Homo sapiens: one gene and its partner. The protein of the gene in region 2 purifies or fractionates together with the protein of the main gene of each other region. This does not show direct contact. Each region holds a gene or a part of one and is shown on either strand. Other genes may lie near its edges.

The links.
Region 1: the proteins of ZNF214 (region 2) and ZC3H18 purify together in Homo sapiens (affinity purification with mass spectrometry; 2 studies listed by BioGRID and IntAct, with this or other methods). This does not show direct contact.

What each region holds. Positions count from the first base shown.
Region 1 is NC_000016.10:88,568,157-88,571,903, reverse strand, and holds the start of ZC3H18 (zinc finger CCCH domain-containing protein 18), read right to left. Parts: upstream 1,502-3,747; 5' UTR 1,338-1,501; intron 1-1,337.
Region 2 is NC_000011.10:7,018,530-7,022,276, reverse strand, and holds the start of ZNF214 (zinc finger protein 214), read left to right. Parts: upstream 1-1,930; 5' UTR 1,931-2,204; intron 2,205-2,526; exon of another isoform or gene 2,527-2,577; coding exon of another isoform or gene 2,578-2,594; intron 2,595-3,747. UniProt on the Homo sapiens protein: May be involved in transcriptional regulation.

The DNA of each region.
Region 1 (3,747 bases), on a different chromosome or scaffold from region 2:
CCTATTTGAATGCCTAAGTTCTGGTACATCTGGTTAAAATTCTGACTCATAACCTCATGGACTTAAAATATCTAAATGAACGTTATCAAGGTTGGTGACAGACCCCACGTGCAAAGTGACCAAGCGTGACCACTAAACTCCTTGATAAAGAGGTACTCACCTTGAGATGCTCTGTAGCTGTGACAAAATACAAATCTCTGTAAACACGATGTAGGCCATAGGTTAACTTACCTGTTTGCTTTCTGGAGTGACTCCACAAAGCTTTCTTACAATATTTCAGCATGTCCCACCTACAACGGGAGAGGAGTTTCCGGCTTTGGGACACATTTGACTGGTTCCAGGGCTGGCTGGGCTCCATACTGCCCTTAGATAGTAAAATTATCAGGAAAAGACTCTCCTCCCAAAGCTGGGAAGCGGGATTCAGCCGAGGTCAAACCTCACCCGGATAATCCCAACTACTGAACGGGAAAGGACTACTCTACAGACAACAGGCTGGAGGTGAGTCTAACAGGAGACATGATGAGCACCTTGCTACACCCCAAACGGTACTTCAGATGCCAAACACTCTCTTCTTCCATTTTCCCAAATGGGTCTGAAGAATGACCTACTCTTGCAAATGAGTTAGCGTTGTTCGAACAAAGCTCATTTAAAACGGCCACTCTACCCGGCAAACTCAGTTGTCATAAAGTATTCAGGAAAAATGTTTGGCAGGAGTAAGGCTGTTAAGTTTCAGTTCTTCCAGCATTATAGCTGCAGTTGGTCTATATAAAGGACCCAGCACCTCTGATCTCCTAATCCAAGGGGCAAGGAAGTTACATACTCCTAAGAGACCGGCGCGCGTCTTGGGGCAATCACTGCGCCCAACCTGTGCACACTTTGAAGCTGCGGAGCAAGTTCCAGGAGGTTCATAAAGAGCTCAAAGTTCTCCGAAGAGCCCAGCAGCAGCCCGGGATGACCTACTCTGGAGGTGAATCTGGGCGCCTCTCACCGCCCCTTAGCCGGCGGCACACATGTGCCACGCGAGTGGCCCGGAAGAGAAATGACAGCTTCAGGAAAATAAACTCTGCCGCGGGGCGCGGAGGCAGCGCGCGAGGAGCTCGGGCGCCCAGGGCGCCCCAGGACCGCGGGGCCGGCTTACGGACGGAACTCGGGGTGGTGCCTGTCTCAAGGTCCCCTTCCCTGGGCCCGAGGGCCACGCTTCGGCCGGTGGGTCCGCACGGCCGGAGGCGCGCCGGGCTCCCGGGCCTCCCTCCCGCGGCCGCCGCCGCCGCCTCGGCGGCCTCCTCCTCCCGCCGCCGCCGGCCCGGCCTCCCGCCGCCCTCCCGGCCCCAGCTAACCTCAGCGCTAGGGCGGAGAGGAGGCCACGGCTCCCCTGGAGTCGGAGCGGCGTGGAGAAGACGTCCCTTGGCCCTTCCGCTCTTCACAGGTTCTGGCTCCAGGCTCGACACGGGCGGAACAAACGGGCTCCACTACCCGCGGGGGCCGGCCATTGTGCGACGTCATCAGGCCGCGACGGTAGTCCTACGGCCGGCGGGCTTCCCTCCCTCGCCCCGCCCCCTCCAGCTTCCTTCCGGCCTCCGCGCGGTTCCGCCCCCGCAGCGCGCGCCCGGACCCGCGCGAGCCAGCCGAACCCCCGCTACAGCGCAGGCGCCACGGGGAGTTCGCTTCTCAGGCGGCGGGCGTGCGGATCCGCGCCTGCGCACAGAGCTCCCCGCGGCCGCCGGGTCACGTGACGGGGCTCCGGCTGGGCCGGCGGGTTCTTCATCCCCGGGGATGATCGAGTTCATCAAAGTGGAAAACTTAAGGCGGTCTTCGTCGGGCTGATACTTCCTGCTTTATTGAATGTTGATATTAAATGCTTACCTCCGGAATTATTTTTTGAGGTATCGACTTTAGATTAAAAGCCTAACAATTCTTACCTTTCCCGTGGGCTGCCTGGCTCCCCGCGCGGTTCAACGCGAGCAGCGCCAGTGAGGGGACCTGTCGCGTGTCCTGCTCAGCGCGGTGTCCCACGGGCGCGTCCACAGCCCGGGGCGTCCAGGGGCTGCAGCGGTGCGAGCTGCTCTAGAGACGGAGGGCCCGGCCGGAGACCAGGGGCCGGCGGTTTCATCCTGCGCTGACCCTTGCCAACGACGTGGCTGGTCCTGGGGATCACAGGGCTTCGCTCATCCCATCTTCCTCCATATCCCCAAGGTGGAAACAAGGGGGCGAGATGTCCACAAACTGAGGAACAGACAAAATGCTGGCTGTCCATGCAGTGGAGTGTGAGTCAGTCATCAAGAAGAGTGAAGTTCAGACCCATGCCACAACATGGGTGAACCTTGGAAACATACTAAGTAAAGCAAGCCAATCGCAAAAGGACAAAACCTGTGCGACTCCATGCTATGGACCGAGTTCTGTCCCCCTAACATTTGTATGTGAAGCCTTAATCCCCAATGTGACTGTGTTTGCAGAAAGGGCCTTTAGAGAAGTAATTAAGGTTAAATGAGATTATAAGGGTGGGGTCCTGATCTGATAGGATTAGTGTCCTTGGAAGAGGTACCACAGGCCTGGCACTGTGGCTCACACCTGTAATCCTAGCACTTTGGGAGTCCAAGGTGGGAGGACCACCTCCTCCAGGAGTTTGAGACCAGCCTGGGCAACAAAGCAAGACCCCTGTCTCTACAAAAAAATTAACAGGGCACCGTGGTGCGTGCCTGTAGTCCCAGCAACTTGTTATGGTTACGTAAGAGGAATGTGAATTCAACCCTGGTGATTTTGGGTCGTGTCAGGAGCAGCCCTGCGACACCAGTTGGCACCTTCTGCAGACTCTATGTGTCGATAAGACAAGGTCCCACCCAGCAAGTGCCCTTTTCTCAGCTGATGAACATAAGCCTGCATGGACGTTACTGTCCATGGAAAGGAGCGGCCGGCACCGGCTGTGACAGACACGTGCCTGTCTGCGATCTGAGTTTCATGAACAGTAAACTCTGTTGGTCACAGCCTCTTTGGAAAACAATGTTAGTTAAAAGAAGTGCCCTGTGACCAGCAGTGCCACCCTCGACAGGGTTCTCCAAGTGGGACCCGGGCAAGCAGCCTCAGTATCACTAGGGGTTGTTAGCAATGTGCCTTCCTGGGCTCTGCCCCAGAGTGGCCGCACCAGTGACTGGGAGTGAGGTCCCAGGGCCCTGTGGTCCATGAAGAGCTCTCAGGGGATTCTGATGCCCAGTGGTACAGGTGGGCCACCGGACTGGGGTGTCATCTGCCCGTGGGCATGAGACATGAACAAGGACATAGCAGGTCTGTTAGTAGTCATAACTAAAAGAACAAAGGAGCCGGGCACGGTGGCTCATGCCTGTAATCCCAGCACTTTGGGAGGTCGAGGCGGGCAGATCGCGAGGTCAGGAGATCGAGACCATGCTGGCTAACACAGTGAAACCCCGTCTCTACTAAAAATACAAAAAATTAGCCGGGCGTGGTGGCGGGCGCCTGTAGTCCCAGCTACTCGGGAGGCTGAGGCAGGAGAATGGCATGAACCCGGGAGGCGGAGTTTGCAGTGAGCCCAGATCATGCCACTGCACTCCAGCCTGGGCAACAGAGCGAGACTCCGTCTCAAGAAAAAAAAAGAACAAAGGAAAAAACCAGAAAACCACCCAGATGTTGATGAGCAGATGATTGTACTGTTGTAATAGTAATCTGGTACAACATTTGCAACATCGCGGTTGTTAAAAATGCTAACGCATGAACCTCCAGTGTGTATACACAGAT
Region 2 (3,747 bases):
CCCCCATCAAAGCTGGTGCTTTGGGTCTCTGCACATTCAAGCCAGGGAGGGTCCATGACCAATAATTTTCAAAATGTAGCTTCCAGAGTCATAAAAAATGCAGATGCTCACTGTGTGGTGGACGGAGGCAGATAGGCTCTAGGCCGGGCACCCCTGCTAAACCCCAAACTGTAACTGGGTAGAATTCATTCCTAAAAGTCTTGCGTATGCTATACTTGGTGCTCTTTGTTATTCATATTGGCCTCTGCCCTTTAGCAGGTATATTCCTTCAGATACACATTTTGTTTCTCTGAAAACTGGATCCTCTTAGCTTTTTTTTTTTCTTTTAATTTTGGTTAGTTCAATGAGGTTCAGGTAATATTCTCAGGTTGGAAGCAGTGTGGCAGAACAGCCCACTTCCAGTGTTCGTTCTTACCGGTCAATGTCTCTGCATTCAGTAATTCAACTATCAATTGCGGCTATTTAAATACATTGCTTTTTAATGTATTTAAATAGCCGCAATTGATAGTTGAATTACTGAATGCAGAGACAGATTTAATGGGTGCAGCACACCAACATGGCACATGTATACATAGGTAACAAACCTGACCTGGACGTTGTGCACATGTACCCTAAAACTTACAGTATAATAAAAAATAAATAAATAAATACATTGCAATTTACAGGTGAAAATACTTAAGGGTGAGCGGTTAAACAACTTGCTTACCACCACCTAGTGGATAACAATGATTGACAGCTCTTAATGTCAGTTCCGTCAGACAACAAAGCCCACATTTTTAAAATGCTATGCTATGCTCTCTGAATGTTCAAACCAGGGAAGGCCCACGCCCAGTAATTTTCAAAATGTGGTCTCCAGAGTCATAAAAAATGCAAGAGCTTATTGTGTGGTGAACTCAAGCAGATAGGCGCTGGGCCACCCACCCCTGCTAAACACCAAACTGTAAATATATAGTTCACAAGACTACTTCCTATGTGCAAGGGGCTGGTTTAAGCATTTTAACTACACTAACTCATTTCAATCTAACAAGTCTGTTACATAGTTACTATTATTATTGGCTATCAATATTACGCCTATTAAGCTGATGCTTAAAGGTTAGGTAATCCAGCCAAGATCTCGTAAGTGGTGTTGTCAGATTTGAATCCAAGGAGTCCCTTGCTTGTAATGACTATCCTACCAAAAGTTCCTTGCCTAATAAAATGTTTGAATATTACTGATCCAGCCCAAGTTTGAAGGACAGGGCCCAAAGATGCGAAAGTATTTTCCTAATATAACACACTCAGCTAAATAATAGAACAGGCTCTTGCAACTCTCTGTGGTCCCAGGACACTGAGGAGGGGCTCCTTCTCATGGCTTCATTTCAGCTCCACTGTGCGTTTCCCTTCTCTGCCTGGAGTCTCCAGAGGAGCCTGGGATTTGGCAAGAAGGCGGGAGGGAGGAAAGCCTCACTGGACCAGGAACGAAGAGGGTGTCTGGCAACAATAGGACGGAATTTGAAAACCTCTAACCTTGAGTTTAGAGCGATGCTAGCTAGTGCCAGGGCTAGTGAGGTGCCCATTCCGCCAAGGCGCGGGACAGCGAGGACAACCACGCCTTGCCAACCAAAGGCGACCTGACAGCGTTTCCTCGGGGTCGTCGCGGTGGTGAGGGTCACAGAATTCTCCGAAGCCAGTAGCTCCGTTTCCAGCCACGCCCCCTTTCCCAGGGCCCTAAAAGCTTCGGGAGTTCTCCTATTCCATTAATGCTGGTGCGTCCTCGCCTTATCCCCCGAGCGCCCGCAGCTCCCGCCCGCGCAGGAATGCCAGCGGCCAAAGGTCGGGAGGCGCGGGATACTTCTGGCCAATCAGGAGTCACGTTTTCCCGCGCTCTCTCTTCCCGCCCCGCCCCTCCCGTATCCATGGAAACACTGCGAGTGTCTACTCCAAGACCTGGGACTTCCGTTTCGGTCCAGCCGGGCTGCGGCCATTGTTTGTGTGGACTGAGTGTTTTGGCCATCCCGGTCCACTCTCACAGGCTCCGTTAAGTGACATGAACTCTCAGGAGGACTGAGCCAGAAGCGGACAGGGCAAGACGAGCTGTGCTTGAAGGAAGAGGGGCAGAAAATCGAGGGTCAGGGACTGAGAAGCTACTCCGGTTTAGAAACCCCAGAGACACCCGTGTAGATGGGTACATCACGGCTTCTCTCCCACGTTAAGACTTAATAAAGGCAAGTAGAGGAGGGCAGAAGCAGCTTGGGCCCCGGGGTATGGGTGCCCGGTGTTCGGTGCCGGGGCAGAGTTCTGGCCGGGGATCTGGATAAGCAACGGAGGCCGCGCGCGTCTTCAGTGCAGGAGCAGGGGACCCCCGGGTCTGTGGCGGAGACCGGGAGATCCCGCTCCTAGAGAACCGTTCGTGTGTCTGGTTCTCTGGTGCTTACACTTGGGCAGCCCGTGACGCGTTGGGGGAGCCCAAACCTGTCCTGCTCTTGGGGCACGCATGAAACGTTTTTTCCCTAGAGAAAGAGGGTTAACTAATTGCTTATTACTTTGCCCAGGAACCTACCTTTGATCAGCAAGGAAGGACTGGGGTGGCAAAGGCTCATGCCCCCATTTTACAGGTAAGGAAACTGAGATCTTGGAGATCTATAAGTTTGGTCCTCTTTAAAGTTCTACAAGTGCTTGATGGCACAGTTGAGACTTTGATCAGGACCTGGGAGCTCCAGTTCTGGGATACTTCTCTAAGACTCCAGGTACTTTTCTGATAGTAAATCCAGTATTCCTGTTTAGCAAGTAGGGGAGGACAATGGAATGATTTTCTACTTAAACTGAACAAAATAAGAAAAATACCTTGAGAATAGATACTATTTAAGTGTGCTGGTGCTTTCCTATTATTGTTAGTAGTAATAATAATCTCAATAAATAAGTGAGTTGTATCTTTTGAAGTTTCTAGAGGGTTGGAAATAAATTTCAAGGTGCCAGTGTTCATAGCTCTCCTTTCTGGTCGTTGAAAGGAAACAAGAGCATTCATAGGCTTCTTTTGGACCTCTTGCTAGGAGATGTGTGCGTCATACCCAGTTAGTATATGGGAAATTTAATGAATTTGGGAATTTAAAGCCATACCCAGGTTTTCAGTCTGCCTTCCTCCTCAGCTCAGCCGTCTCAGCACTCTACCCTTCCCCAGAAGAGGAACACAAAGGAGGAAGGAATGTACACTGTTTCCCTCATAGTCTGATCCCAAGTGAGGATGATTGTCTTTTCTCATTTACAAAATGTCCCTGCATTCTCCATGGGTGGTGGAGGTGGCAATGAGGATGGATGGATGACTGGACAGAAAACGTTCCTCGCTTGCCTGTGAAATTTTCGAGCGTGCAGACTTGACCCTGCCCCAACCCAGTGTCTTTTCCCAACATTTACTCATTCATTCATTCAGTCACTCAAGTCTAGTGTATAATTCATGCTGTTCTTGGTGTTCTGAGATAAAGAATTATAAGAATGTCATCGCCAGGCGCGGTGGCTCACGCCTGTAATCCCAGCACTTTGAGAGGCCAAGGTGGGCGGATCACTTGAGGTCAGGAGTTTGAGACCAGCCTGGCCCACATGGTGAAACCTCGTCTTTACTATAAATACAAAAATTAGCCAGGCATTGTGGCAGGCACCTGTAATCCCAGCTACTCAGGAGGCTGAAGCAGGAGAATTGCTTGAACCCGGGAGGCTGAAGTTGCAGTGAGCCAGGATGGCACCACTGCACTCCAACCTGGGCAACAGAGGAAG